5 separate regions of the Homo sapiens genome follow, and regions 2, 3, 4 and 5 are each reported to be linked to region 1. Evidence: microRNA targets listed by miRTarBase, many of them from high-throughput screens and not tested one by one. Region 1 holds a microRNA gene; each other region holds the end of a gene's coding sequence. Distances are between the middles of the regions.
What was found. The annotated mature microRNA hsa-miR-4329 reads CCUGAGACCCUAGUUCCAC and lies in region 1 at 3,259-3,277, shown strand. An mRNA with a match to its seed (bases 2 to 7 or 8) in the 3' UTR can be bound and repressed. Matches are read on the target gene's strand: a 7mer-m8 pairs with bases 2 to 8, a 7mer-A1 pairs with bases 2 to 7 and ends in A, and an 8mer does both.

Region 1 (6,436 bases):
TAGAGGCTCACCAAAATCCCCAATCTTAATAGCAACTTTCTGCCTCTTTTTCTTGCCGCTTCATCCCCATCTGCACTAGACATAATCTTGAAGCTAAGAGAACATAGTTAGCTCCCAACAGAAAACATGCCTGGAGTTCTCTTGCAGATCCCCATTCTCTTAGGAAGTATAATGAAGCAGTGCCAGTTCATTGTTTTCTCGGTCTATTGTCTGATTTCCTTGAAGACCAATATAATTGCATCAGTATTCTCCCTAATCCTAATAACCTCCCTCACCCGCCCACCACACACACACACACACACACACACACACATGTTTTTCCTTATTAATTGGTCTTTGAGTTAATGGCCTGAGACACTTTCAAATGGAACATGATGGTCCTTTATGCAGTTAGAACTCTGGCAAGAGAACAGTCACTTTGTTGGGGTAGACCCATTGATTTGGTGCTAGAATGTTTCAGATGTAGATTAGATAGGAATCGAGTGGGACTGACTCAAAGGCACTATTTATTAGCTCACATGCCCTACCTAATCTTAGCTGATGTGTCTGTTGTTTGCTTCTAGTACTCAGGTGTATTTACCAATGTTCATCTGTAGCCATAAGTTACTTAGTATACCCTCTGACTTTCTTGAAAGTCTGACCTTTCCCCCTCTATGACTTCTAGGAGAATAAAATGGAAATATATACATATTCCTTTTTTTTTTTTTTTTGAGACAGAGTCTCCCTCTGTTGCCTAGGCTGGAGTGTAGTGGCTCGATCTCACCTCACAACAACCTTCACCTCCCGGGTTCAAGTGATTCTCCTGCCTCAACCTCCCAGATAGCGGGGATTACAGGCGTGCACCACCATGCCTGGCTAATTTTTGTATTTTTAGTAGAGACAGGGTTTCTCCATGTTGGCCAGGCTGGTCTCAAACTCCTGACCTCAGATGATCCACCTGCCTCAGCCTTCCAAAGCGTTAGGATTACAGGCATGAGCCACCATGCCTGGCCCAATATATACATATTCCTGTTGCTTGGCCATGATCTAAAAACTTGAAGGGGCTATCTGCCAGAAGGTTTTGGGATGATATCTGTTCAGTTCTGAAGGCAAGTCTGTGCATATCTCATCCCTCACTGACTTTTGCAGCCACTTCTATACTAATAACGTTGCCTTCTACCCTGAACGCTGAACTGTCCTATTTTGGAGGCTCTTACGGGTTAGTTCCCCAGAAACCATCTGTTCCAAATGTGCTTGATTTCAGCTTAGGACTTTCCAGAAAAGCCTTCCTTGACTTAGAAGAAAGATAACATTCATTGATCTTGCTATGCTCCCATCTCATCACTTCCATTTTCCTCCCCAGGGACACAACAGTCATCAGTCACTCTCCTAACACCAGCTATGACACAGCTCTAGAAGCTCGCATCCAGAAAGAGGAGGAAGAAATCTTGATGGCCAATAAGCGTTGCCTTGACATGGAGGGCAGGTAAAATGTTGTTCTGGACCCTGAGGAATCTGAGACATTGATATAGAGACCACATAGGATCTTTATTCACAGCTAGGAAATCTGATCATGCAGCCTCCCCGCTCCACCATCACCCCTGCCAGCCTGTCACTTAAAGGTGTGAGATGCAATGACCTTTACCTTGATAATCTCCACTAAACATGGAATTCCAGGTAGGGTTTCTGTCCCTTTGGCCTTCCTAATTGCTTTTCCTCTTCCCTCTGCCTGAGCTGAATTGTTGGCATTTGCACTCTGGAGTATTCTTTCTAGCACTGCACCACAACCCTGTGATACAGCAGATTGCTTAATAAAAGAGTAAAAGAACATCTGCTCGGCCGGGCACAATGGCTCACACCTGTAATCCCAGCACTTTGGAAGGCCAAGGCGGGCGGATCACCTGAGGTCAGGAGTTCAAGACCAGCCTGGCCAATATGGTGAAACCCTGTCTCTACTAAAAATACAAAAATTAGCCAGGTGTGGTGGCGGGCACCTGTAGTCCCAGCTACTCAGGAGGCCGAGGCAGGAGAATTGCTTGAGCTTGGGAGGCAGAGGTTGCAATGAGTCAAGATCATGCCATTGCACTCCAGCCTGAGCGACAGAGCTAGAGTCCGTCTCAACAACAACAACAAAAAGAACATCTACTCAAAGTGGAGGTAGGATACCTGATTCCTTTTATAAACACATGATCATTTACTTACTACCTGCAGGTTGTCGCTCATTCATAGATCTCATCTTCTCACTGAGTAAATTGTTTCCATTGACTGAGATTCTTCACTACAGCACCTAGTACATCAGTTCATTCTCTCATATTCAGCCTTTTTTTTCACTGGTACTTTATTGTGACTTACTAAGATTTAAGCAACAGCTCCTGGATGCTCTGCTGTATCCATTTGGGTGTGCAGAAAAAAGAAAAAACATGTTTTAAAAACTGTAGCACACCATCCCTTGTTTTCCAACTCAGAACTAACTAGATCAGCCTTTAGTCGAAAAGATAATGGGAGCTCCACGTAGTCATGTAGTCAATTAGACCAAAATGTGGAGGTAGCAAGAAGGTTTTTTTTTTTTTTTTTTTTTTTTTGAGATGGAGTCAGTCTTGCTCTGTCACCCAGGCTGGAGTGCAGTGGCACTATCTTGGCTCACTGCAACCTCCGCCTCCCAAGTTAAAGTGATTCTCCTGCCTCGGCCTCCCGAGTAGCTGGGACTATAGGCGCCTGCCACCACACCCAGCTAATTTTTGTGTTTTTAGTAGAGACAGGGTTTCACCATGTTGGCCAGGCTGGTCTCGAACTCCTGACTTTGCAATCCGCCCACCTCGGCCTCCCAAAATGCTGGGATTACAGGCGTAAGCCACCGCGCCCAGCCCACAACAAGGTCTTTATATGTTCTTTGCCTTTGGCTCCTAGGATTAAGACCCTCCATGCCCAGATTATTGAGAAGGATGCCATGATCAAAGTACTCCAGCAGCGTTCCCGGAAGGAGCCGAGCAAGACAGAGCAGCTGTCGTGCATGCGGCCAGCGAAGTCTCTGATGTCCATTTCCAATGCTGGATCAGGCTTGCTCTCCCACTCATCCACCCTGACTGGCTCCCCCATCATGGAAGAAAAGCGAGACGACAAGAGCTGGAAGGGGAGCCTAGGTAATGACAGTAAATAAGGAAGATTATAGTCACGTGTTCAAAGAGAGCCCTGAGATAAGCACCCATGCTTAAGGAAAAGGGATGATGGTCCAGGTTCTAGAGAGGAAGGTGTACCAGGGTTTTGGAGTTTTTTTTTCCTCCTGAGACCCTAGTTCCACATTCTGGAGCTCCTCCACACTTTGAAGTCTCCCGGTGAGAATACCGATTGAGGCCAAGGCTTAGAGGACAAGAATCTTGAGTTTCATTTGGGTGTCAAGGAAGATAACTCTAATTTCCTCTAAACTATTCTCAGATTTGGCCTTTGCCATGTGGCACCTTTATCTTTCTCCAAAGCCCATGTGGCCTTTGTGTCGTTCCAAATGTCAAAATTCCGGCATTTCTGTGTTCCTTCCTCCTCTATAATAGGAGAACCCAGAGTTTTAGTTACACTAAATCGTTTGGGTAGCAGGTTTTGTTCCCACAGTGTTGTGAGATGAGAACAGAATGTACTTTTTCATTCCGTTCCTGTCCATTCCCTCCCCTCTAATCAAAACCCCAGACATATTGTGGATACCACGAGGCACATTTTTAGAGCCCGAGGAAGGAAGCTTATATATATTTTTATTTTAACCCTTTTTGTTGCTGTTAATTCCTTTCTTGGTCCTCTGATACTTGTAATATCTTTTGGTTAGAATAAGCATTTTGGGGACTATGGTCATGGTGAGAACCTCAGATCACACAATTATTACCACACTCAATCTGTGTCAACAGACTTCTTCCCCAGATCCTTTCTTGCTCCCTGGTAACGTGTGGTAATGGTTTATAAGTGGAGCCGAGTAGGAGCATTCTGACAACTTGGTGGAACCCAATCACCATTGGAAAAATAAATCAAAACAGATACCCAGGTCACTTACAGGCTTAATATGTTGTGCCAGGTGATGGATGAGGACCAGAAGGGATCCTCGAAGTCTGTAGGAAACTTTTAGCCATGGTTGGAGGAGCCTCACACACTGATTTCTGGGTTCCCTGGAGGCAAAAATAAATAACTTAGACTATTCTAAATTATTTAATATTTAAAAATAATAATATTTTAAATATTTAAATAATATTTACTTATTTAAAAATAAATAAATTTCTTCTGAAATTTGAATGGGAGAACAGGTAATTAGATGTCTGGATTTGAATCACCTATTGTTTTCTAACATCTGTTCCTCTTTCATTTGTAGGCATTCTCCTGGGTGGAGACTACCGTGCTGAATATGTCCCTTCCACACCCTCGCCTGTGCCACCCTCGACTCCCCTGCTCTCGGCTCACTCCAAGACAGGCAGCCGAGACTGCAGTACCCAAACTGAACGTGGGACGGAATCGAACAAAACTGCAGCTGTTGCTCCCATCTCTGTTCCTGCTCCAGTTGCTGCTGCCGCCACTGCTGCCGCCATCACTGCCACTGCTGCCACCATCACCACCACCATGGTAGCTGCTGCTCCAGTTGCTGTTGCTGCTGCTGCTGCTCCAGCTGCTGCTGCTGCCCCGTCTCCAGCCACTGCCGCTGCTACTGCTGCTGCTGTTTCTCCAGCTGCTGCTGGTCAGATTCCAGCTGCTGCCTCTGTTGCCTCAGCTGCTGCCGTTGCTCCTTCTGCTGCTGCTGCTGCTGCTGTTCAGGTTGCTCCAGCTGCTCCGGCTCCAGTTCCAGCTCCGGCTCTGGTTCCGGTTCCAGCTCCAGCAGCGGCTCAGGCTTCTGCTCCTGCTCAGACTCAGGCACCAACTTCAGCTCCGGCTGTGGCTCCAACTCCAGCTCCAACTCCAACTCCAGCTGTGGCTCAGGCTGAGGTTCCTGCAAGTCCAGCTACCGGTCCTGGACCACATCGTTTGTCTATACCAAGTTTGACCTGCAATCCAGACAAAACAGGTAATTATTCCCTTTAGCAGGTAGGTTTTGGTTTAGTTCTGCTCTCAAATACAGATTTATTTCTTGTTGTCTGATGTCTGGGCAGAGTTATCATTTGGACTGAGTTTTTCACGTTCTAAAGGAGAGAGAAGAGAGTCTGTAAATGACTTCTCATCCACCAAGATGGGAACAGGCATGAGTAGAGGCCATTATCTTAGCAGAAGTAAATGAGGGAGGTGGCAGGCAAGTCTCACTTTGCCATTGGCTTCATGAGGGCTCTGATGGTGTCTGGTTCTAGAAATATGGGTTTTTTCTTCATCCCTAAGTGTTTTCTAACCCTTATTTCCATTTAGATGGGCCTGTGTTCCACTCCAATACTCTGGAAAGAAAAACTCCCATTCAGATCCTGGGACAAGAGCCTGATGCAGAGATGGTGGAATATCTCATCTAAACGGCCAAATCAAGAGCTGCAGATTATCAGCAAAAATGCTTTTAATCATTTTCCCCCTTTTATTGGTTCTTGTTTTGAGGGTGAGGACAAGGGTTGTGGGGAGGGGATGTTTTTTAACAGGACTTTTTATTGGAACAATGTACTACTTGAGTAATACCATGTGAACACCAGTCTATTTTGGTATGCTTAGGGAGTACCTCTAAAGACAGATTAATCAGAATGTGCTCTAAAGCTTATTGTTTGAATTTATACGAATACTGGGACTGTTAACAGGTGGCTATACATCGACGTTTTCAATGTGCTTAAATTTGTTTAAATTTTCCATATTCTAGATCATTTTTTATTGAAGAGCACAGTATGTGTGGAAGACAGTGTATAACACGTAGTTTGGAAGTGGGAAGCTAGAGAGAATTGAGTGTGTGCTGTTTTGTATAGTTACTATCCTGTGCAGCAGCTGGAGAAAGCACTCACCTCAGGCTTACAAAAGGGAATAGTTTCAGGAGCTATGTAAGCTGGAAAAAAGGTAGGGAGTTTTGGGGTGCAGAAGGGTACTGGAGCTAATTTTTTCTTCCAGTTTCCCAGCTACCCTGCCCCAGGGAATTGTGTTTGTCTTCATTTCAGTGGTGCTTTGGAAATGGATTCTTTTGGTTCCCTCCTGGAGGTTCATACATTCATATATATGCTCTGGAGTAATTTATGCATTTGGATAATTAATATATTGCTTTCAGATGCTGGGAGAGTACATTAACTGAGTGATGCGCAACTTCCTCTCTCTTAGGGAATTAGACCATCAGAGGCCTTGATGGAGAGTTGCATGGGGTGCTATATGCAGACTTCCATGGTTTGTGTGTAGCCATGAACACAGCTTGCTTGCATTTAGTAAGACCAATCAGCTTAGTGTTTATTTCTTCTACAGCACAGATTCACTGGCTGGGTCTCCAGTCTCAAATTGCCAATCATTTGCAAAGTGAGGAAGGATCTTTGTTGACAGGTTGAAT
Region 2 (6,436 bases), 60 Mb from region 1:
CAACTTCTGCCCCTTCCCTCACACAACCCCTGCCCCCCGCCCCCCCGCTTCTGCCTCTTTTCCTACCTTCCACTTCTGCCCCTTCCCCCACCCCCCACGTTTGCCCCCTGGGTGAACTCTGCTGTAGCTCCTCGGGGGCTCGGGCTGCCCTACCGCCTGCGCCTGCAATTTAGGCACCCAGGGTGTTTGGTTTGGGGGCCAGGTTTTGACGTGGCGTTTTCCATCTCCGCAAAATGGCTCTACAAATAATAATCACACACACAAAAAAGTAACTTCCTCTGCGTCATAAAAATGATTGTGATTCAGCTCATCTGCTAGAATTTTCTAGCACTTTCTGTCTCTTCATTTCTCCCCCTTTCCATCCTTTCCTCTCCCTTTCCCCAGTGTATGCTGTATTTTAAGATTTTTCTTTTTAAACCAGAGATGGATGGTCTTTTGTGAGGCATGGTGGTGGAGGGCTGGCTTTGGTGCTGGGATTCACATCATGGGTGTGCCCCTCATTTTGTAACCTTAACCAAATCACTGCCCCTCTCTGAGCTTCAGTTTTCTCTCCCCTAAATTAGGCATCCCTCAAGAGAGGTGTAGGTAACTGCCCATTGCAGCCTTGTCGCGGAGCAGAGAGGAGACCTAGGGATCCATCATCAGGGGAGTGGATAAGAAAAATGTGATATATGTTTTAGATGGACCACTAGAATGAATTAGATCTATATACGGCAACATGGCTGGATCTCTCAAAGACAGAATGTTGAGTGAAAAAAGAAACAACAAGATTTATAGTACAATACTGTTTATGTAAATTAAAACACACAGCAATACCATACATTTTTCACAGATACACATATATGTAAATAAACACATGAACGGTGGATTGGAAGGACGTACGTTAAATACACGAGAGTGGGTGCCTGTGTAGGGGGCGGGGAGGATGGGATCAGGAATGGGTGATGAAGGGGACAAAACTGAAGAAAAAAAAATAAAAGGGCCTCACATGGACCAATGATGATATAGTGTGCCAAGAACTGAGGAGTATGGTCAACTCAATTCTGTGCACCTGAGAGAATAACCAGATAGTAAATTAACTGTCTAGGGAGCAGGCTGGCTGGGTAGACTCCTGGGCTTGGGTTTTTTTTCCCCATGACATCCCTCCCTCTAAATTTGGTCAAAGCTGACCAAAGTCCCAGCTGCATACAGTGGCCCCTAGGAAGGGCTCCCATCCCAGACTGAGCAGTCCCTCCAGAAGCCATTACTTTGTGGGGGGCATTTCCTAACCTCATCAGTTTCCCTCACATTTGATCCTCAATTCCCAGTCCCCATTCTCCATGGTGGTCCAATTTTAGGAACACCTTGTTTGAGTTTGGGAAGGAGACTGAGACGGGGTTGAGATGGGGCTACAGGCTTTGTGAGGAGATGAGGTTTTCAAGTTCCCTGGCGGCCCCAGCCCTCCCGTGCTCAGGGCCTGGGCCAAGGGAGGCCCATCTTGTGAGATGGGAGTCTACCCTCTTGCTACCGACCTATGTAGTTTCCAAGATCCATCTCTTGACCACTCGACTTCCTACCACGGGCACATACTCTAGTTTGTCTCCTCTCAACTGTGGTGTGTGTGTGTGTGTGTGTATGCATGCACGTGCTGTATCTGTCCCCATATACAGGCATTTTACGTGTGTGCACCGGGCAAGTTTTCTTCAGGAGTGCCTCCCCACACAAAGTCACACAGACACACACTATCACTCAATCATGTCTCTCCACATGTGGTCAGACAGGGCACATGCACGCACGCACGCACACACACACACACAGTCAGAAAGAGAAAACATCCAGTATAGCATTGTTCATTTCAGTTTTTCCATTTACAAAATCCAATGGTGAATCCAGGCAGTTAGAAAAAAGAAATGGAGGAAAACCCTCCTAAATGTACCCTATCTACCCCCCACCCCCTTGGTCTTCCCACCCCACCCCCTCGGAAAGGCACCCCCATCACTATCGCTGAGAGAACAGGCTCCCCTACTCCCAGCCTCTCAGCCACTCTGGCCTGCCTTTCCAGGGCCACTCTGCAGCCAGGCTCATTAATGTCTCTCCTGCCTAGAGTGCCCTCCCCATTCTGTATGGGTCAGGCTTCCCCAGTTCTGGGGCTCTCTTGGGCTAGGGAGGGAGTTTAGGACAGGGACTTCTATAAAGAAGGGAAAGGGGGATGGATAAATACAGATTCCGGCCCCACAGGAAGTGAGAGGGGGACAGAGAGCCTGGGTAAGACCAGGGCAAGGAGTGCCAGCTTGGCTCACCAATCCACAGAACAGGCCTCAAAGTAAGCCCAGAGTGGACTCCACCCCTGGGAGGAGGCTTGGATCTCCCTCCTGGAGAATCTGACTGCAGTGTGCTCCACTTTGGGTGTAGGTAAGGGTGGGGGAAGGATGGGGAAGGAGGGTTGTTGGGAAAGAAGGATGCTTGGGGCTCAGGGCCCAGTCAGCCAAGGGCTACTAAGGAGGGGCTTGAGGCCCCTGAGGCTTGAGGGGGACAAAAAGAGGTCAGATAGGAATGGACTCAAGTCCACAGTGCCTTGGAGTTTGTACCGCTATCGGTTACCAAGGCCCCAAACAAATTTTCATCTTCAGAAGAGTAGGGTGAACCCGAGAGACAATTCTGGGGTTGAAATCAGCTCTGACCCAAGTCTCTGTGGTCCAGCTACTCTGGGGAGTTCAGCTCCCTCCTTACACTTTCCTGGTGGGCTGCTCCTGCCTGTATGGCACCCACATCAGTCCTAGTGGGGCTGGAGTGGATTTCCATCCTCAGGAAGAAGAGTTGGGGGCTGGGGATCCTGAAGGCAGCGTGAGAGAATGTGACCAAGTGTGGGTCTCTTCAGTTCGAGGAGTTCAGCTCACATCTTACTCTTCACCTAACCTGGGCCCATCCTTGGGGCCCTTCTCCCTACTCCCTTGACTTCTCCAACAGATGCACAAGAACCATTTGGGAGGTCTGGACATGGTGGGGAGGGAGAAGAGACTGGGCTTGGGGCAAGGGTTGGCCTAAAACAACATTGCACATGACATAGTAATTAAACATCCCTGCTCCCTGGGAACCCAGCACCCCCTTTGGTCCCTCTTGTCAGCAGCCTTGGACCACTTTCTCCCTAAACATCCAGGCCTTGCTAAAGGACTTGGAAGGGGAGGGTGCATGGGAGCAGAGGGGGCAAAAGAGCTCTGGAAGTCTATTTTACAGGACAAATTCCCCCTTCTGGACAGTGTCAGAAGGAGAGACATTAAAGTAAGAAAGCCTGTCTCCTCAGCTGTTAGTAGAAAAACCTGCATTCTCAGTGTTCTTTTCTTTTTCTGAATTGTCACTTCTGAGAGAGAGAGAGAGAGAGAGAGAGAGACAGAGAGAGAGAGAGAGAGAATGAGATTGTAGAAGTGGAGAAGGAGGCAGCGGAGACAGGCCCCACAAAACTAAATATGCCTCTTTCCCAGTCCCTCGCCCAGTCCTCCATCCTTGGGAGGTGTTGGCAAAGGTGCCTAGATTACAGGTGGTTCGAGGGGCTGGGGCTGGAGCTCAGAAAGGAGGACTCCTGTATGGGCCCCTACCCCTCCCTTGCTGTTGGCCCCATCACGGTGGCCATGACCTTCTCTCTGCCTGTCTGCCTACCAGCCTGCTTCACATGACACAGTAGGGTTCTCTGGGAGCCGGGGCACCTCCTGTGCCCCAGCAGGGGGCGTGAGTCCTCAGGCACTTCTTGAGGTCCTTGTTGAGCAGGAAGCAGACAATTGGGTTGACGGCAGCCTGGGCGAAGCTCATCCAAACAGCAGTGGCCAGGTAGCGGTGGGGCACAGCACAGGCTTTCACAAACACTCGCCAGTAGCAGGCCACGATGTAGGGTGACCAGAGGAGCAGAAAGAGCAGTGTGATCGCGTAGAACATGCGGCCCAGCTGCTTTTCACCCTTGACCTCGTCCATGCCCAGTAGCCGCCGGCTGGCTGCATGCCCATTCTGCCGGATACCCAGCAGGGTTGGTGGCATGGGCCCACGGCCAAAGCCGGCGATCCAGTTGGCAGCAGCCTGGCCGGTGGCCCCGGGACCATGGAATGTCCAGTTCTGGCTGATGGCTGGCACCATCTGCACTGGCTTCATCTTGCGGTGACGATACTCGAAGAGGAGCAGCTTGCCGTAGACAGCATGGGTAGCTGCCATGAGCACAGCCAACATAAGCATGAAGCCCAGCGTGTCATTGGCCTTGAAGTAGCGATGCTCAAAGATGCACTGGTCCTCCTCCCGAATAAACTTGTAGGTGCCCACGTCAAAGACAGGTGGGAAGGCCATGGCCACAGACAGGGTCCAGGCCATGCAGATGACAGCCGCGCATGTCCAGAGTGTCATGCGCTTGGCGTAGAAGCGGTGGTGGGCGATGGCCATGTAGCGGGTGACGCTGATGCAGAACAGCATGAAGGCCGCATGGAAGCAAAAGAGCACGGCCATAAAGGCCACAATCTTGCAGCTGAGTGCACTGAAGGTCCATGAAGAGCCGTGGCGCACAGAAGCCAGCACAAAGGGGAAGCAGACGGCAGAGCGTATGCCATCGGCCAGGCACAGGTCCAGCAGGAAGTAGTAAGGAGCCTTGTGCAGGGCACGCTCCTTGAGCACCAGCAGGGACAAGATGGCGTTACCCGCCAGGCTCACGCACATAATCAGTCCCAGCAGTACCAGCTTCACATAAGCTGATGCGGACGGTGGGGACAGAGCGCCGCTCACCTCCTCAGGCTCTCCGGTAGTGTTGGCCATACTGAGGGTCAGGGGCTACTGCCAACCCTAGGGGGTCAGCCAGTCCGGTACTCGATGGGCCCGGGGGGGCTCCATGAGTTGTCCTGCTACATTGCACCTGCAAATGGGAATGAGCGGGGGAGACACAGACACAGAGAGACAGAGAGATGAGGGCAAGAGAGAGACAGAGAGATGAGGGCAAGAGAGAGACAGGCAGAAAAACACAACAGGCGTGCAGAGACAAAGTGGGAAAGAGAGAGAGAGAGAGATAGAACAAAGAGATAGAAAAGTGGCCACCGATATAAATGGATTGAGATTGACACAGAAATGGAGGGGATGAGAAAGAGCGAGGAGAGAGAAAGAGGGGAGAGAGAGAGAGACAGACAGGAGACCATGAGAAACAGATGGAAAGGAAAGATGAGGAAGAAACAGAAAGGGTAGGGTTAGTGTGTCTACGAGCCCTCCCCAATTATGCCCTGGCTGGTGCCAGGCCCTGCCCCTGGGCCACTCCTGCTCCTACCCGCTCCTTGTCAGGTGAGGATGCTGCATTTCTTTGGATGTCTTTGGTTACCTGTTTCCTCCACTGGTGGATCTGTGGGGCAGGGATGTTGGTGCAGCTCTTCTCCCCTTTTGCAAAGCTCTAAGGTTGTGTTCAGACTTTTTTTTACTGCCACCCACAGTAAAAAAATACATTTTACATCACAACCCGCTACACATACATGCACGCACACACACAGCTCAACCAAAAGTTTCACAAAACAGTACTGAACCTGTATGCAATGTACCCCATTCATTTTTATTCTCTTTCATGTGTTCTTAAAATGCTGGTACCACTCACTTAATAGATTTCTTTATTCATGATGAGGAATGTGTTTAGTGTGCTTGAGGAACAGCAGGAAGACGAGTGAGGCAGGAACGGTGAGAGCAAGGGAGACAGTGGTGGAAGGTGAAGTCGCAGAGATGCCTTGGGGCCAGATTGTGTAGGGTTGTGGGCCACGATGAGGACTTTGGTTTTTATTTTAGGTGAGGAGGCAAGTATGTGTGAATATAAACATGTAGGGATGCTTGTGCATATTCATTCATACACTGAAAAAATATTTATCAAGCATCTGTGTGCCAGGCACTGTTCTAGGTATTGGGGATACAGCTGTGAACTACACAGATAAAGATCCCGGCCCTTGTGGAACCGACATTCTAGATAACAAAGAAGAGACACGGGTGAAGTATAGTATGTCAGATGATGACAAGTTCCTAAGAATAAACATAAAGGAGGGAAGGAAGATAGGAAGTGCTAGGGGTGGGGAAGATGCTGCAGTTTTAGATGAGGTGGACAGGGGAGGCTTCACGGAGGAAGTGTCATCTGAGCACAGACCTAAGGGAGGTGAGAGAGTGAGTCATGCGGATATCTCGGGGAAGAGAAGTCCAGGCAGGGGGAACGGCCAGAGCAAAGGCCCTGAGGTGGGACTCTACATGGCATATTTGAGGAAGAGCAAGGAAGCCACTGTGGGTGGAACACAGTGAGTCAGGGGAATGTGGTGGCAGGTGAGGTCAGAAAGGTGGTGAGGTCAGATCAGGGAGGCCGTGGCGAGAACTTTTTCCTCTGAATGAGATGGGAGTCACGGGAGGATTCTGAGCAGAGGCCAGATGTGGTATGATCTAGGATGGAACAGAATCCCGCTTGCCGTTGTGAAGA
Region 3 (3,000 bases), 9.3 Mb from region 1:
GGACAAGCTCCCGCTCCCCAGTACCTTAAGAAGCCACCTCAAGTCCTTCTCCATGGCTAAGGGCCTGAATGCCAGGATGATGCGAGGCCTCTCCTACTCCCTCACCACCAGCTCCACTCACAAGAGCAGCCTCTGCAAAGTGGAGATCGTCTGCCCACCCCAGAGCCCACCCAAAAACTGCACCAGAAACAGCTGCAAAATTTCTTAAGGAAGGCACCAAAAGGAAACAAGCTGGAATCGCTCCAGGAAAAACTCTGGTTACACCTGGAAGATGGAAGTCGCATTGTAGATTCAAGAAATTAGTTTTCAGTTTCTCACGGGAACCATGCTGCTTGGGAATGTGTGTGATGCCTTCTGTCAATAAAAACACATTACACAGTTTGACTTTGAATTTCTATTTGGATGTGCATGAAGCTCTTGTTTTAAACGTGTGTTTATAAAGGGGAAATTAGTACTTTGCTCAACTCTTGATAACGTGAAATTTTGAATGTTACTTATATCATAATCACGCTGCAACTTTTTCCTTAAAATAACCGCCTTTGTTAGAATGGTGATATGGCAATGATGAGTATAAATTCAAGGAAATTTGAGAAGCAATGATAGTGAGATAATTCAGTCATCGATAGTACAAGAGGGGCCTTTTTGTAAACCTCCTTTTTAATGTCAAAGCACCAATTTATAAAACACTGCAGATGCATATAGAGATTGTATATAACAGATCTGTCCAGCTTGTGCATGAAATGGATTTGATAAAGTTTTTGCTATGTTATTTACTACATTTGGGGATTAATACGTGATTTATATGTATGTTTTTCTGTAAATCTACTTTTTTTGTACGAGATGTTCTACAAGATATGAAGCTAAGGGAGGAAAACACCAAAGATATCTCTAGTTATGTTGAACATAGCCAATATGGTTTCAATGGATCAATAAGAAAAAACCATTTCAGTAAGGAATGAAATACGTACTTATTTGAGAAAATGTTTCTTAACAGTAAAAAAGTATATATTTTTCTCTTTGGTAAAACGAAAAGAGAGGAAAAATATGTATAGTGTAACCCCGCAAGATGAGGCTTTGCAGAAAAACAATGCAATAGAACATGGCGGGGCAGGCCCATTATAAGGCCTTAGGTGAGTCATTTCCCCTGTGCTGGCCAGTTTTGGTTAACACCTCTCAGATCAATATAGAGGTTAATGAGATCACATCTGGGAAAGCACTTCTGAGACCTTAGATGGGAAAGAAGGAGAAGTGGTTTCCACGTAGTTACTTTCCAATTTACACTGTTGATTATTATAATAATTGATATTGGATGAACTGAGTAAATATAAGTCCTTGTACTCTTTTGTAATTGAATGACCATTTATTTGTGCATTGTCATAGGGTGATTGTAACAAAGTCCCGCAGAAGGGCAGTATCTCTGGCCTCACGGAGCTGTGGGGACTCACCCTTCCTGAACGCTGGTACTTTTCTATCTCATGAATTTCCCACAACATTCCTGGGAGGTAGAGGATATAATCTCTACACCATCCTGTAGCTTAAGAAACAGGGATGTTTGCAGGTTAAGCAACCTGGCTGGGGAGCATCCTGCCACTAAGTGGAAAAGCAGAGACTAGCATCCTATATGCCCCCAGGCAGACTGTGATGCTGAGCTGCACATCACAACATAACCAAGCAAATCTTGCTTTCCTGCTGACCTGGGTCACTACTGAAATCTGTATCTTCAGCTCTGAAGCCAGGCTGCCAGTTCTGTCTCTCTTATGAAAGACAGAGAACCTTGTCAGACCTAAATTTCCTACTCTGTAGACAAGGGAGTGTGTCTGGGCCATTGCTTTAGAAACGAGTCCGCAGACAGTTCCTGTATCAGGAAGAATATGCACTCTCAGAGGGACAGGGGCCATGCTGAGGGTGAATACTTGAAGGAGCAGGCCCCAAACACATGCAGATCGGGGATGCATAGAGTCTTTAATAGAAATTACCAAATCAACCTTGAAAGAGGTTGTACTAAATGACATCCCCACCACCAATATGAAACAGGGTAGGCTTCCCCGCATGCCCACCTTACTGGAATCCTGAATGGTTTCTTTTTATACTTTGATGATATGACAGGTGGAAATTCTTTCATTGTCATTATATTTAATTTGATGTTCAGATAACTTAAAAAATTCCCTAGTATACAAAATGCTCTGATAATCATCATTGCATTATATTTTTATTGCAAACTGGTCCATTTTCATATGTAGCCTAAAAACAATGAGCAACAGGCACATTAGCCTGCAAGTTCTCCTAGAGCTACTGGTGGCATTATGGTTCCAGGGTGTGTTTGTGGCCTCTGGGGAATACTGATGGCAGTGTGTTTGTCTAGAAGATTAAGAACATCTCTCTGTGATATTAGTTGAATTCAATATTAGAGAAGAGCTGGAGTCTTTTTAAGTGACACAAGAGCTGGACCACAACATGCTTCTGAGCAGGCTGTAATCCTGTCCCTGTGATGGACAGCAAGCCTTTCTGTGACCTCACCTGCTCAGGTCAGGGTGGATCCCTCCAGAACGTAAGGTATGGCAATTGGCCTAAATCTGCTTCTGAACACTGAAGCTGAGTGCTCCCATCTTCCTGCCGTCAGTTGCAGAGACTGGAGAAGCTGCATCTTCTCAGACACCAAAACCACGGGTTCAGTCACCTGTGTGAGGAGCTCAGTGCTGGAAGATAAAATACCAGCACCTGTTTGACACATCGTGCATCCATCCATCCATCTGTCCATCCATCCATCCATCCATCCATCCATCTATCCATCCCCATAGTTAACAGGCATTAAAGTCAAATGACACCATCCCTCTGGTTAAGTTTTAGACTTCCCCAGAATAGAAACAAGGAAGTAAGGGGGTTGTGGTAAACTCAGTTTCTAGACCTAAGAAGAGATGGCTCCTTCTCCTTAATATTTCCACCCTGAGAGAGCCTCTTATCATTGATAATTTTAAAACATAATTTAAAACCCTAGACCTC
Region 4 (6,039 bases), not on the chromosome of region 1:
AGGGTGAATGCCCACAGGTGGCAGCTGAGTGACGCAGGGAGGGCCGGCCAGCCCTGCAGCAACTGAAGCATCCACTGGCACCTCAAGTGCTGGTCATAGGACCAGACACCACCACACCAGCTAGGCTCGGAGCACACAACTGGGTCCCTGAAACCCTCAGGAACTTGTTTCTGTCCTGCCTTCTGCCAGAGGGGCTGGAGCAGCCTCTACCCATGGCACCTCAAGTCTGCACCCTTTTATGAAGGGTCACTAATCAGTCACCCTTCCCTCTGCTGGTATAAACAGTCCCCCATCTGTGACATCACCTGGGCCTGACTGGCCCCACCCTTAGTTGCATGTTTGTCACAGGCTATCTGCTTTGTCTTCAGAGGCCCGGCTTCCCTGTACTTAAACCGTCCTTGGGGCTAGCAAGGAGCCAGTCTGGCTCCAAAGCCCAGAAACCCTTGTTTACTTGATGCCACCCAGTGCCGAGGGCCTGCAGGTGCCCACTCATCCGTCTGTGGCTGAGGGGTGCCAGCCTAGGCCTCAGCTATCAACATCCTCCCAACTGTTTCCCCCCTCCCCACCCCAAGTGAACTGCTCAGCTCCCACCTTGCTCAGGGAAGGGGGCATCACCCCAGAAACCCTTTTCCCTACAGGCCTGGCCCTCTTAGTAGGAGGGGGCAGCTACTGCCCAGCAGAGCAGGACTGGGCAGGGTTGGTCACCTTGCCCCGGCTGCCTTGCCACTCTGTCCCTGCTGGCATCACCCCCTCAGACACCAGGGGAGGATGGCCCAGGACTGCTGCCCCTGGAAAAGACAAGGAAGCACCCGAAGCTTTCGCACAGTTCAGACTTTTTAATGCAAGGAGAAAGTCTTCACTTCTCTTCCCACAGGTGTGAACAAGCCACTGCAACTTCAACAGTGACTTCCCGGCAAGGACAGCGCCCGCATCCATCCTCACCTAATACTGTATGGAGTGACGGGCTAAGGAGAACAAGGCCAGTTCCTGCAGACTCCGAGCAGCGCTGGGGAGAAGCTCCCTGAGACCCCCGCGGGAAAGCCTGGTGGGAAGCCCAGCTGTGTGGTACCTGGTGCTCCACCTGCCTTGGTGCCATCACAGCCCGGACAGTGGCCACTGGCCTGCAAACGCGCCCGGGCCCTGGAGGCTGGGCTCAATGGCCCCAGGCAGAGGAGGGGGAGGCGGCCTGAACTGGCCCGGGCCACTGGGCCGCAAGGTTCTGGTTTCTTATTGCTCAACCTGGGGGCCAGGGGCGTTGTAAGGACATCCAAGTGAGCTGCCCTCCTTTGCTAAACAGAGGAGGAAGGAAGGTAGGAAATGAAGGGGGATTACAGAAGGGGCTGGGTTTTCCCCTGGTCCCCGCTGTCTGGACATGAGAGCCTAGCCAGAACCACGGGCTTCCTCTTACCAGCACCAAGCTGTCGTGAGGCCCCGCCACCGCCACCCACCACCACCTCCCACTGTGGAGGGTGCGTCCCAAAGCTCCAGTTAAGTGAGAGGGTAGGGCAGGAGCTGGGATGACCACCCTTCCTCAGCCAGGAAATGCAACACTGGGGTCCAGGAACGGGGTGCTCCCCGGGTACCCACACCTAATGCCCCCTGGGCAGGGCTGCTCCTTGGCTGGAGGGTGGGAAGGGGAGACAAAAATCACAGCTTTTGAACAGTGGTTGGGAAGTTATTGGGAACTTTGGTCAAGTATGAAAGATATCACTTTACAGAACAGAAACTAGCTTATGTATTTTTCTGGAAGACATTCTCCTACTCCCCTGAACTCCCAAAAAAAGACCAAGGTGGCTGGGCCCTGCTTCTGTGACTGCTGAGCGGGGTTGCGCGTCGGAGCCGGTGGGGCGCGGGAGGAAAGGGCAGGGCCCGCGCACGGGGAGCCTGGGCCCGGGAGGGGAAGGCACAAGAACCCACTTCGCCCGAGAGCACGGGGGAGGCAGAGCCAGGTGAGGAAGGAAGCCACGGTCCCGTGAAGCAACCTCAGCTCAGAAGCACACGGAGGGTGCCTGGTGTTCCTGTCCATGCAGCCTCAGCCTAGCAGCTGCCAAAAGGGCGACCTGGCTCCCCCACGGTCGCAGTCGCTGCACTGTCCAGCTCCAGCCACAGCAAAGGCCGGGGGGCAGAGGCCGTGCACACAGGGCTGGCACACAGGGGAGGCGGCGACAAAGAACGCAGCCTCTAACGTTATATATTAAAATAGCCACAGTTCTTGTGCACACAATTCCATCCTCTCACCCCTGCCTCCCCCGCCAGGCCCAGGAACAGCCTTAAAAGAAAGATGGTGGTTTTCCTTTTCGAGAGGCGAGGAAACATCCGCTCAGTCTTTATGGACCTTGAGAAATGGTGAGGCTTCCCCTCCCCCCGTCTCTGCCTCCCGGCCGGGCGTGCAAATGGCAGGTGCGGGGCCGGGCGCCATCACTCATGTCTGCGCTTGGAGGGCGGCACCAGGTGCGGGGGCAGGTCGGCGGGCAGCTCGTGGCCCTCCAGCTTGACCTTGATGAGGTGGTTGGCCAGCGCGAACTCCTCGTCGTCCAGCAGCCCGTCCTTGTCCACGTCGGCCAGCTTCCAGATCTTCCCTAGCACGGTGTTGGGGAGCTTGGACTTCACCATCTCCTTCTTGGCGTTGGCGCCCGTGATCTTGCCGTTGACAGGGGACAGCGTGTAGAAGATCTCGTCGTAGGTGGGCTTGTCCTTGCCCACCACCCACTCCACGTCGTCGATGCCCTCGCCGGCCCCCTCGCCGTAGCCGTGCCCGAACGGCCCGTTCATGGTGCCGTCAAAGGCGCCGCCCTTGACCACCTGGGAAGGCATCAGGGACTCCTCCTGCCGCACCATCACCATCAGCCGCGCGATGTCGTTGGCCAGCATGTCATCCACCGTGTCCAGCAGCTTGGGCTTCAGCGCCTGGAACTTGCTGAAGTCCTGGGTCTGCAGGAGTTCCTGTGGGCGGGGGAGGAAGGACAAGGGCTGGGAAGGGAGGCCCCTCCCAGACTCCAGGCCAAGTGGTTCCAGTCAGGGCTTCACAAGCATAAAGTGCTGCTCCCCCACACTAGCAGGGGCGACTCGGCAAAACCATCTGGCCCTTGGCTCTCTAACCTGTACACAGGAGGCACCTCCAGCTCTTTCCTTGCAGGGCTGCGGCAAGGATTCATGGACAGGGCACCAGAGCGCCTGGCATGGCCCTGCCCTCCCCCCACCACGCAGGGTGAGTCACCACATTCCCCTCTGCAGTGTCACCGCCTGGGTCAACTCTGAGTTGGGTGGGGTGCTGGTGATTAACCCAGCTGCTTCCGTTCAGGGAGGCCCTTCCCCATGGAGATGGGATTCCCTCCAAATCCAGTGCCCTGGGCCTTCCTTCTGCCCTGATGGCCACCAGCCTGCATGGGGCCTCGGGACAGCCGTACCTGCATCTTGCGGAGGCTCGGGAAGTCCCCAGGGGAGATCTGGTGCTCGCGCTCAATCTTCTGGTAGATCTCTCCGAGGTTGTTCACCAGCTCTTTCTTTTTGCTCTCTTTACCAAAGACATTGGGCATCTCTTTCTTGAGGGAGCTGATGATGTAGGCGTGAACCTGTGAGGACGGGGTGAGCATCAGGCGCTCTCTTGGCCCAGGCTGCCCCCGAGAGCAGAGCCTCCAAGGACACTCCAAGGATACTCCAAGGTGCTCGCTCAGGAACAGGGAAGCAGGAGGGATGGGTCAAGCTCAAGGCCGCTACCACCACCGGCTCCCACAGTCCTAGGAGCAGACACAATCTGGCAAGAGCCACAGCTGTCCACTGCCACAGGACAGAGGACAGGACAGGAAAACGCACTTGAAACAGAAGACAACAGCCTTGGCCTTGCACGGATCATTGTGATGATTCAGGAAGAGTAAAACCCAGTCTGTCAACCCAAAGAAGGCAATTTGTCGTGTACCACTGGGCACATCACACACCCTCTGTTCAACCCTCACCACGCATCACACACCCTCCGCTCAACCCTCACCACGCATCACACACCCTCCGCTCAACCCTCACCACGCATCACACACCCTCCGCTCAACCCTCACCACGCATCACACACCCTCCGCTCAACCCTCACCACGCATCACACACCCTCCGCTCAACCCTCACCACACACCCTCCGTTCAACCCTCACCACAGCCCTGCGGGGTGGGATTCTCCCAACCCGGCCCTAAGCAAGGCTGGGAAAGGCTGCCTGGGGTGCTTGGCTCCCACATGGAGGAGCTGGGATTGGAACCCCGGGCTGCTGAAGGTGCCCCACAGCCCATGTTCTTCTGTTTCTCTGCAAGCCCCCTTCCCCCGAGCTGCCCCCTCCCACGCAGCAGAGCAGGGAGCAGGCTTCCTGCAGGGCCCACCAGCCTGCACGTCCAAATCCCTGCTGAGTGCCGATGGAGCCCACAGAACTCCAATGGGCCCGTGCCACGCTCCACTCCATCATCACAGCTCGGATGACGAAGGATTTGAAAAATCCCAAAAAGGCTTCTCCTGGTGGTTGCCAGCTTTATCCAAGCATCAATACCTTGCTTAGGCATGTGCCTGTTCAGGGCGGCACCCCCTTCATTTCCCTGCAGCAAGCTGGGAACCTGGCAGCCCTCGAGAGTAGCCCAGCCCTCAGATCCCTCGGCCTTGCCAAGTCGTGTCCAGCCACAGAGGGCTGCGGCCAGCCAGCCTTGCTGCCCTTCTCCCCGGCTCCAGCCCATCCACCACCCCGCTCAGCCTGAGCCTGTGCCCTGGGTGGGGGCCTGGCTGAGAACTGCCTGAGGGAGGCAGCCCCGTGCCATGTGGGTCTGGATCTAGAGTCTCCCCAGGGACACTGTGGCAGGCAGATCCCAGGCCGGTGGGAGTCATCACAGAGAGCACCACTCACTCCAGGAAAAGGAAGTGGCAGGTGTGAGGCAACACTGGAGGCCACAGGGTTTTCCAGGCGCGGTGACTCAGTGTGCCTGGGGCCTGGCAGTCACACATGGTCTCACAGACGACCAGGCAGGGGCTCATGCCTGCCCCTTGTCCTGTCTGTCCTCAAAGGTGGCTGAGCAAGGGAGCTCTCTCTGCCCTGCAAGGAGAGAAACTCAGCTAGGGCCACACCCACACCCCTCAGCTCAGGACGTCCTTTGTCCTTTGAGGCCAGGGTCAGTCACCTGGGTTTTTGTATGGGTTCCTCTCTCAAAGCTGGCTCCACTCACAGGGAGGCTCCAGAAGGGAGAGATCTAGAAAAACATCCAGCCAGCCGGGCGCGGTGGCTCACGCCTGTAATCCCAGCATTTTGGGAGGCCGAGGCAGGCGGATCACCTAAAGTCAGGAGTTCGAGACCAGCCTGATCAACATGGTGAAACCCCGTCTCTACTAAAATATAAAAATTAGCTGGGTGTGGTGACGGGCGCCTGCAATCCCAGCTACTCAGGAGGCTGAGGCAGGAGAATGGCTTGAGCCTGGGAAGCGGAGGTTGCAGTGAGCCGAGATTGCGCCACTGCACTCCAGCCTAGGTAACAGAGTGAAACTCCATCTCCAAAAAAATCAAAAAATAAAATAATAAAATTAAAAATAAGAAAAACACGCAGCCCTCTGTCCTCCAGAGCCGGCATCTGACCCACGCCCGTGCACACAGCTCACGGAGGTTCAGGCCAGAATGAGAATTCCTCATCTACAGGGTGAGGTGGGGCCCAGGGTACTTGGGGCACAATGGGAGGACAGTGGTGGCAAAGGATGAAGGGTCAGTTCTCACTGCTCAGACCAGGTAGCACCCACATGCCCTCTGACTGGCCTCCAGACAGAGTGGGTACGAGGGCCACTGTGCTCAACGCCTGCAGTCTCCATGCCTCTGAGCAGGCAGGGACATGGGCTCCCCAGGAAGTGCCCATCCTCAGTCCTCAGTTATATTCTGGAGATCAGGGGACTGTGACCCTGGCCACAGGCACATCTGTCACTGAAGCCTTCATGCCCACATGATGTCTACCCTGGTACCCCCTGCATGCCATGAGGTGGGGGCAAGCACCCTGCTCTGTTGAAGAACTGGGGACGTATCACCAAAGGGCCTGG
Region 5 (6,436 bases), not on the chromosome of region 1:
TAATAATAATTAGCAAAGCATGGTAGCTCACACGTTTACTCCCAGCTACTCAGGAGGCAGAGGAGCCGGGAGGATCACTTGAGCCCAGGAGTTCAAGGCTGTGGTGAGCTATGATTGCGCCACTGTACTCCAGTGTGGGTGACAGAGTGGGACCCTGTCTCAAAAAATAAAATAGTGAGAGTAGTAGTGCTACCTCAAAGGGTCGCTCTGAGGGTTAAAATGGGGTCAATGTGGTAAGCCCTCTGTGCACTGCCTGGCATGCAGGCATTTTGTTGGTGAGGTTATATGGCTACCTGCTGCCTTTCCAACAGTGCCTGCCAGGATGCCCTCCCGGGGAACCCCCTGCCTCCGTCCTGCTCCTTCTGGTGGGCTCTGGTTTCACCCCCAACGAGGCCTTCCCAGGTCCCCATTGACAATCACAGCCACCTGCACACCCTCCCACCGCCCTCCTTCCCCCTTCCTGCTTTACTTTTCCTTCCATAGCACTTTGGGCCTTCCAACAGATGGTGGAATTGACTTGTTTTACTTGTCTTCTGGTTTATTTTTCTTTGTTGGTGTCTCCCACCTCTAACACATCAGCTTCAGGAGACCCAGAAGTCTTCCCCTCTCCTTTTCTTACTTTATCTCCAGTGCCGGTTTCAGAGTTGGATTGGGCTCCAGCGTGCTGGCCCTGTGGCTTGGCGACTGTCGCAGTCTCCCTGAGCGGCACTCTCCCCACTGGTCCAGTGAGCACCGTCTCATTTACCTGCCTTGGGGGGTCGCTGTGGGTATTCACTGAGAGAGGGACACAAGCCAGGCTCTGGATGGAACCGGTTTCCCTGGCAGGAGCTGGTCAAGTGTGTTTGAGGAGCAGGGAGGAGGAGGCCAGTAGGGCTACAGTAGGGTGAGCGGGCGACAGATGAGAGGAGGAGAGGCGCCGGGCCAGCCAGGACCCTGTGGTCACGGTGAGTGACAACTCGGACTTTGACTCTGGGTAAGCCAAGGTCTCTGAGCAGCGGAGGGACAGGCGCTGATTTAGGCGCTAATGGGCGCCCTCTGGCGGCTGCCTGGGGACAGACTGCTGGGGGCGAGGGCAGAAGTAGGGGCACAGGGAGGAGGTGAGTGGATCTCACCCAAGTCGGGGGCGGTGGAGAATGCTGGATTTAACTTAGCGGTGAAGCTGACAGATTTGGCTAATGGGCCAGATGTGGGGACAGACTAAAGGATGCTGGCCCGAGCAGCTGCAGGGCGACATCTTAAGTTCCCCGAGATGGGGAAGGTGTGGGGATGGGGGCGATGGGGGTGGGGAGCAGGACTGGAGGTGGTCCGGTCTACAGTAAGATCAGAACTCATAGCACATGTTGAGGGGAATGGATATAAGTGTTGGGCTCAGCAAAGAAGCTCGTTTATTTTATTTTATTTTAATTTTTCAGATGGAGTCTCACTCTATTGCCCAGACTGGAGTGCAGTGGCACGACCTTGGCTCACTGCAACCTCCACCTCCTGGGTTCAAGCGATTCCCTGCCTCAGCCTCCTGAGTAGCTGGGGTTACAGGCGCACACCACCATGTCCGGCTAATTTTGTAGTTTTAGCAGAGACGGGGTTTTGCCCTGTTGGCCAGGCTGGTCTCGAACTCTTGGCCTCAAGTGATCCACCCACCTCGGCCTCCCAAAGTGCTGGAATTACAGGCTGAGCTACCACGCCTGGACAATTTCTTAAAAAATTTTTTTAAAGTAGGATTGATAGCAGATGAGTTTTCTCGGTGGGCCAGGTCCTCTGCTAGGGATTTCAATGGAATGATCCCATTTAAACCCACTACAACCTCATGGGGCTCTTATTGTCCTCGTCTTGTGGGGGCAGAGAGGAAAAGTCCCCAGCATGCAGAGTGTTGGAATCTGGATTTGTACACAAAGCCACGACTCTGAATTGTTCAAATCCCAAGACTCTCTTCCCCATCTCTGACTCTGTCCCCCAACTCTTCACTCTCTCTGGATCTCTGTCTAATCCCACTCCAGTGTCCTGACCCTCCTCGAGCTCAACCTTTCCTCCTCCTGCTAGGACCCTGCCCCCTCATCCCTGTGCCCTTCTGTCTGGGTCTCTGTCCCCTTGTCTGGGTGTCTGTCACCCTCCGCTCTCTGGTTCCTCGCCTTCCCGTCTCTAATCTCACAGGGCTGATGTGGACGCTGCTGTATGGGGGGAACACCTGCCCTGCTCACAGGGCTCTGCCACTTTTCCCTTCCAGGAGGGCATCCTGGCTGTTTCACCCGTGGACTTGAACTTGCCATTGGACTGAGCTCTTTCTCAGAAGCTGCTACAAGATGACACCTCATGTCCCTGCCCTCTTCGTGTGCTTTTCCAAGTCTTCCTATTCCACTCAGGGCTGTGGGGTGGTGGTTGCCCTACCTGTTTTTGCCAAAAATAAATTGTTTAAAACTTTTCTTATTAAAAACGTTACAAAGTATTCAATTGTCTGTTCTTACACTTGGGAACTAAAGTTTTAAGGAGAGGAGATTTGGTTCAGAGATTTCTGTGGCTTACGCAAATTGAGGAAAGAACCAGTTCATTCATTCTAGAAATATTTATTTGCAGCACCTACAAGAGCCTGTCTCCTGGACATGTAACATATTTGAGAGAATACCTGTAAATATTCCAGCAACTTGCATTTTTTTTTCCTATTGCACGATCTGGTTATTCTAGCTAATGCTGTATGATGGTCATGGAGTCTTTCCAGTGAATTCCACAGAAAGGTACAGTCTAACTTCACCTGTGTCTAGGACACCACCCTCTTCTTGTTTTTCTCCTCCCATTGCTCCTTTCAAGTCTCTCTTGCTGGTTTCTCATCTACCTACAGACCAGTGGTTTGTCTCACACACACCCCCCACTCTCCCTTTTTTTTTGGAGATAGGGTCTTGCTCTGTTGCCTATACTTGCACTGTTATATAGATACAGTGGCACTATCATGGCTCACTGCAGCCTCAACCTCCTGGGCTCAAGTGATCCTCCCACTTCAGCCTCTCTAGTAGCTGGAACTAAAGGCATGCGACACGACGCCTAGCTAATTTTTAAAAAAGAATTTTTATGGGAGGCCAAGGCAGGTGGATCACTTGAGGTCAGGAGTTCAAGACCAGCCAGGCCAACATGGTGAAACCCCATCTCTACTAAAAATACAAAAATTAGCCGGGCATGGTGGTGGGTGCCTGTAATCCCAGCTACTTGGGTGGCTGAGGCACGAGACTCGCTTGAACCCGGGAGGCAAGAGGTTGCAGTGAGTTGAGATCACGCCACTGCACTCCAGCCTGGGCAACAGAGCGAGACTCCGTCTCAAAAAAAAAAAAATTGTAGAAATGGGGTCTCCCTTATGTTGCCCAGGCTGGTCTCCACCTCCTGGGCTCAAGTGATCCTCCTACCTTGGCATCCCAAAGTCCTGGGATCACAGGCATGAGTCACTGTGCCTGGGCGGTTTGTCTCCTTTATAGGGCCATATCCCCCTTCACAGAGTAATGTTTGTAAATTAATAAGTGAAATGTACAGGATTACAAACCGAACCAATTACAGTTGATCCTCAGTATTTGTAGATTATTTGCAAATTTGCATCCTTGCTACAATGTATTCATACCCCAAAAATTAAGGCAGTGCTTTTGTGGTGTTTTGGAGGGCAATGCTTATGCACAGAGCTGCAACAAGCTAAAGACCTGATGTGCATATTTGCAGCTGGGCTCCTCTTGCTTCAGCTCAAACACTGGAAACAAATGTCCTTTTCTTGGTTTGTTTAGTGCCATGCTTTTCAATTTTTTTTTTTTTTTTTAAAGTTAGAGTCTCGGTCTGTCGCTCGAGCTGGAGTGCAATGGCTTCATCCTGGCTCACTGCAACCTCCACCTCCTGAGCTCAAGCGATTCTCCTGCCTCAGCCTCCCAAGTAGCTGGGATTACAGGCGTGTGCCACCAGTCCTGGCTAATTTTTTTATTTTTATTTTTATTTATTTTATTATTTTTTGAGATGGAGTCTCGCTGTGTCGCCTAGGCTGGAGTGCAGTGGCACCATCTCAGCTCACTGCAACCTCTGCCTCCCGGGTTCACGTGATTCTCCTGCCTCAGCCTCTGGAGCAGCTGGGACTACAGGCGCCCACCACCACACCCGGCTAATTTTTGTTTTTTTAGTAGAGACGGGGGTTTCACCATATTGGCTAGGCTGGTCTCGAACTCCTGAGCTTGTGATCCGCCCACCTCAGCCTTCCAAAATGCTGGGATTACAGGCGTGAGTCACCGCGCCCGGCCAAATTTTTTTTTTTTTTTTTTTTGAGACAAGAGTCTCGCTCTGTCACCCAGGCTGGAGTGCAGTGGCGCGATCTCAGCTCACTGCAAGCTCCGCCTCCCGGGTTCACGCCATCCTCCTGCCTAAGCCTCCACGCCCGGCTAATTTTTTGTATTTTTAGTAGAGACGGGGGTTTCACCATGTTAGCCAGGATGGTCTCGACCTCCTGACCTTGTGATCCGCCCGCCTCGGTCTCCCAAAATGCTGGGATTACAGGCGTGAGCCACCGCGCCCGGCCGCCTGGCGTAATTTTTGTATTTTTAATAGAAATGGGGGTTTCACCATGTTGCCCAGACTGGTCTCGAACTCCTGATGTCAAGTGATCCGCCTGCCTCCGCCTCCTAAAGTGCTGGAATTACACCCGTGAGCCATCGCGCCCGAACCCTATTGTAAATTTTAAGTCTCAGGCGTTTGCCAGCGGCACGCCAGAGAGTATAGCCTGCGCGGAGGCCCAGAAACCAAAGAGCGAGCTCATTCCGGGATTGGAGAGAAGTGTGAGCAGAGGGAAGTAGAGGGATCGGGGAGAGGAGGGGCAGGACCCACGCATTCGGCCCTTTGCATTCAGCTTCATTCAACTAGGAACTTTTTCTGCAAATCAAGGAAAGCTTCCCGGAGGAAGTGGTGCCTAAGCTGTGCTCTGATTCACGTTTAGAAGCTGACCAGACAAAGAGAGGTGGGCGTTCCTGGCAGGGGGAGGGACTTGGCAAAAACCAAGTGGCTTGAGAGGGGTTGATGGTTTTAAAAAACTTGGAATGATTATGTCAAGGGCTAGGGATTTAATGTGTTGACGACGGACTCCTATTCCTCACTTGCTTCGGGACCCCAGCTATGCCCTTCCTCTCTCTGGGCCTCTCACCGATTCCGTTTTTCCCCCAGGTAATGAGCACAAGCTCCCTTTTTCCTCCAGACTCCCCCCGGGTTGGGAGGATCCACCGAGTGGACGAGGAGTGATAATTCCTTTGAGCCAATCGTTGGTGCCTGAAGCCCCGCCTTCTTCCCTACCCGTGGGCCAATTGCCGTGTTCTCCTTGAGGCCGGCCGCTTGGCGAGGGTGGGCCAAAGGCTGCGTGACGTCGCTTCCGGATAAACCAATGGCAGCGATTAGGAGGCGGGTCGTTTTGGTGATGGACAGGTGTTTCAAGACGCCCCTTTAGCGCGGGGCTCCCCGGGAAGCTTTGAGGCGGTGCTGGGTGTAAAGGGGAGGGCATTCCTGGTGGATTTTGCCCAATCACCAGTCGCGCTTCTTGCAATAGACGGGCAGTTTTCCCCATCCCGGGTCGACTTGAGGGGGCGGGATTCTGGACGCCAGAGTTGGCAAACCCCTGACCTATGATGGACGTATTCTCTAGCCAATTACTAGACGGTATTCTCAGACGGGCCGCCTCCATTGCCAATGAAATCTTCCAGCGGGGTCGCGGTAGGCGGGCCGTGGACCCTCTGGTATAAGGCGGTCCCGGGGGAGTGAGGAGAAAGGGGGGGTCTTGGCGGCCGGAGGAGGAGTAGGTGCGGGTGAAGATGGCGGCAGCCGAGGCCGCGAACTGCATCATGGAGGTGAGCGCTTGGAGCGCCGCCGTGGGCGGGAGGCGGCTTTGGGTCGGTGTTTCACGCCTCTGTGGTGGGGAAAGGGCTCTAAGTTGGCGATATGGGGTTGGAGGTCCCCCGCCGCACACGGGGGCGCCGCACGTTCCACATCCGGGGATATCGTTTGAGGTGACGGCTCCCTAGCTTCCAAGGGCCTTCGGCATCCGGCCTAGCGGAGGGTCTTATCCCCCCTCCCACGTGGAGGAGGGCTGGGGGCGCTTCCGGCCAGGCCCCCACGTGGCCGCTGCGCGGTGGGTGGGGAGGGGGTGTGCCGAGTCCAGTGGCCCGGCGGGCTCCACGTGCGGGACAAAGGCCCCGCCCCCGGCCGGGGAGGGGCGCCCAGGGGGGCGGGGAGGGGGTCCGACCCTCCTGACGCCCCCAGCCCTCCTCCCCGGGGACCTGGGCACACGCCGTGGGGTGTGATCGACCTGGGGCCCTCCACGATGTGGGGAGTCTCTTGGGAGGAGCAGTGCTTCTCAGCCCTTTACCAACCTCCTTCCGAGCTCCGGGGGCATCTGTTGGGATATCGGACCCGGTTTTGTGCGTTCTGGGTTAGGGACTGGAGG

Region 2: miRTarBase lists GPR173 as a target of hsa-miR-4329. Seed matches in the 3' UTR shown: 7mer-A1 at 3,337-3,343 and 7mer-m8 at 1,367-1,373.
Region 3: the mRNA of RAB40A is a reported target of hsa-miR-4329. The part of its 3' UTR that is shown has no 7-base or 8-base seed match.
Region 4: the mRNA of EHD1 is a reported target of hsa-miR-4329. Seed matches in the 3' UTR shown: 7mer-m8 at 1,022-1,028.
Region 5: the mRNA of BCL2L12 is a reported target of hsa-miR-4329. Seed matches in the 3' UTR shown: 7mer-A1 at 2,279-2,285.

The regions. Positions count from the first base shown.
Region 1 is chrX:112,777,569-112,784,004 of GRCh38, reverse strand. MIR4329 (microRNA 4329) reads left to right here and starts at 3,217; the gene lies at 3,217-3,287. AMOT (angiomotin) reads left to right here. Exons shown (of 14, transcript NM_001113490.2): 11 at 1,343-1,465; 12 at 2,887-3,119; 13 at 4,325-5,008; 14 at 5,341-6,436. The coding sequence ends at 5,438. RefSeq lists an enhancer at 4,112-4,612.
Region 2 is chrX:53,074,950-53,081,385 of GRCh38, reverse strand. It overlaps GPR173 (G protein-coupled receptor 173), which reads right to left. Exons shown (of 2, transcript NM_018969.6): 2 at 771-4,861. The coding sequence starts at 4,764. The coding sequence ends at 3,643. Among named protein-coding and RNA genes, the nearest start is that of TSPYL2, 4.2 kb to the left of the region's middle. RefSeq lists an enhancer at 3,737-3,796.
Region 3 is chrX:103,497,131-103,500,130 of GRCh38, reverse strand. It overlaps RAB40A (RAB40A, member RAS oncogene family), which reads left to right. Exons shown (of 3, transcript NM_080879.3): 3 at 1-1,001. The coding sequence ends at 208. All of the region lies in intron 5 of LL0XNC01-250H12.3 (a long non-coding RNA gene), which reads right to left. Among named protein-coding and RNA genes, the nearest start is that of RAB40A, 21 kb to the left of the region's middle.
Region 4 is chr11:64,851,915-64,857,953 of GRCh38, forward strand. It overlaps EHD1 (EH domain containing 1), which reads right to left. Exons shown (of 5, transcript NM_006795.4): 4 at 3,408-3,572; 5 at 1-2,943. The coding sequence ends at 2,419. Among named protein-coding and RNA genes, the nearest start is that of CDC42BPG, 10 kb to the left of the region's middle. RefSeq lists enhancers at 1-100, 1,418-2,416, 2,417-3,415, 2,663-3,862, 3,104-3,163 and a silencer at 1,761-1,820.
Region 5 is chr19:49,671,477-49,677,912 of GRCh38, forward strand. It overlaps BCL2L12 (BCL2 like 12), which reads left to right. Exons shown (of 7, transcript NM_138639.2): 7 at 2,222-2,440. The coding sequence ends at 2,272. PRMT1 (protein arginine methyltransferase 1) reads left to right here and starts at 5,795. Exons shown (of 11, transcript NM_001536.6): 1 at 5,795-5,840. The coding sequence starts at 5,805. RefSeq lists enhancers at 628-1,186, 680-869, 5,280-5,429, 5,434-6,165 and a silencer at 6,010-6,289.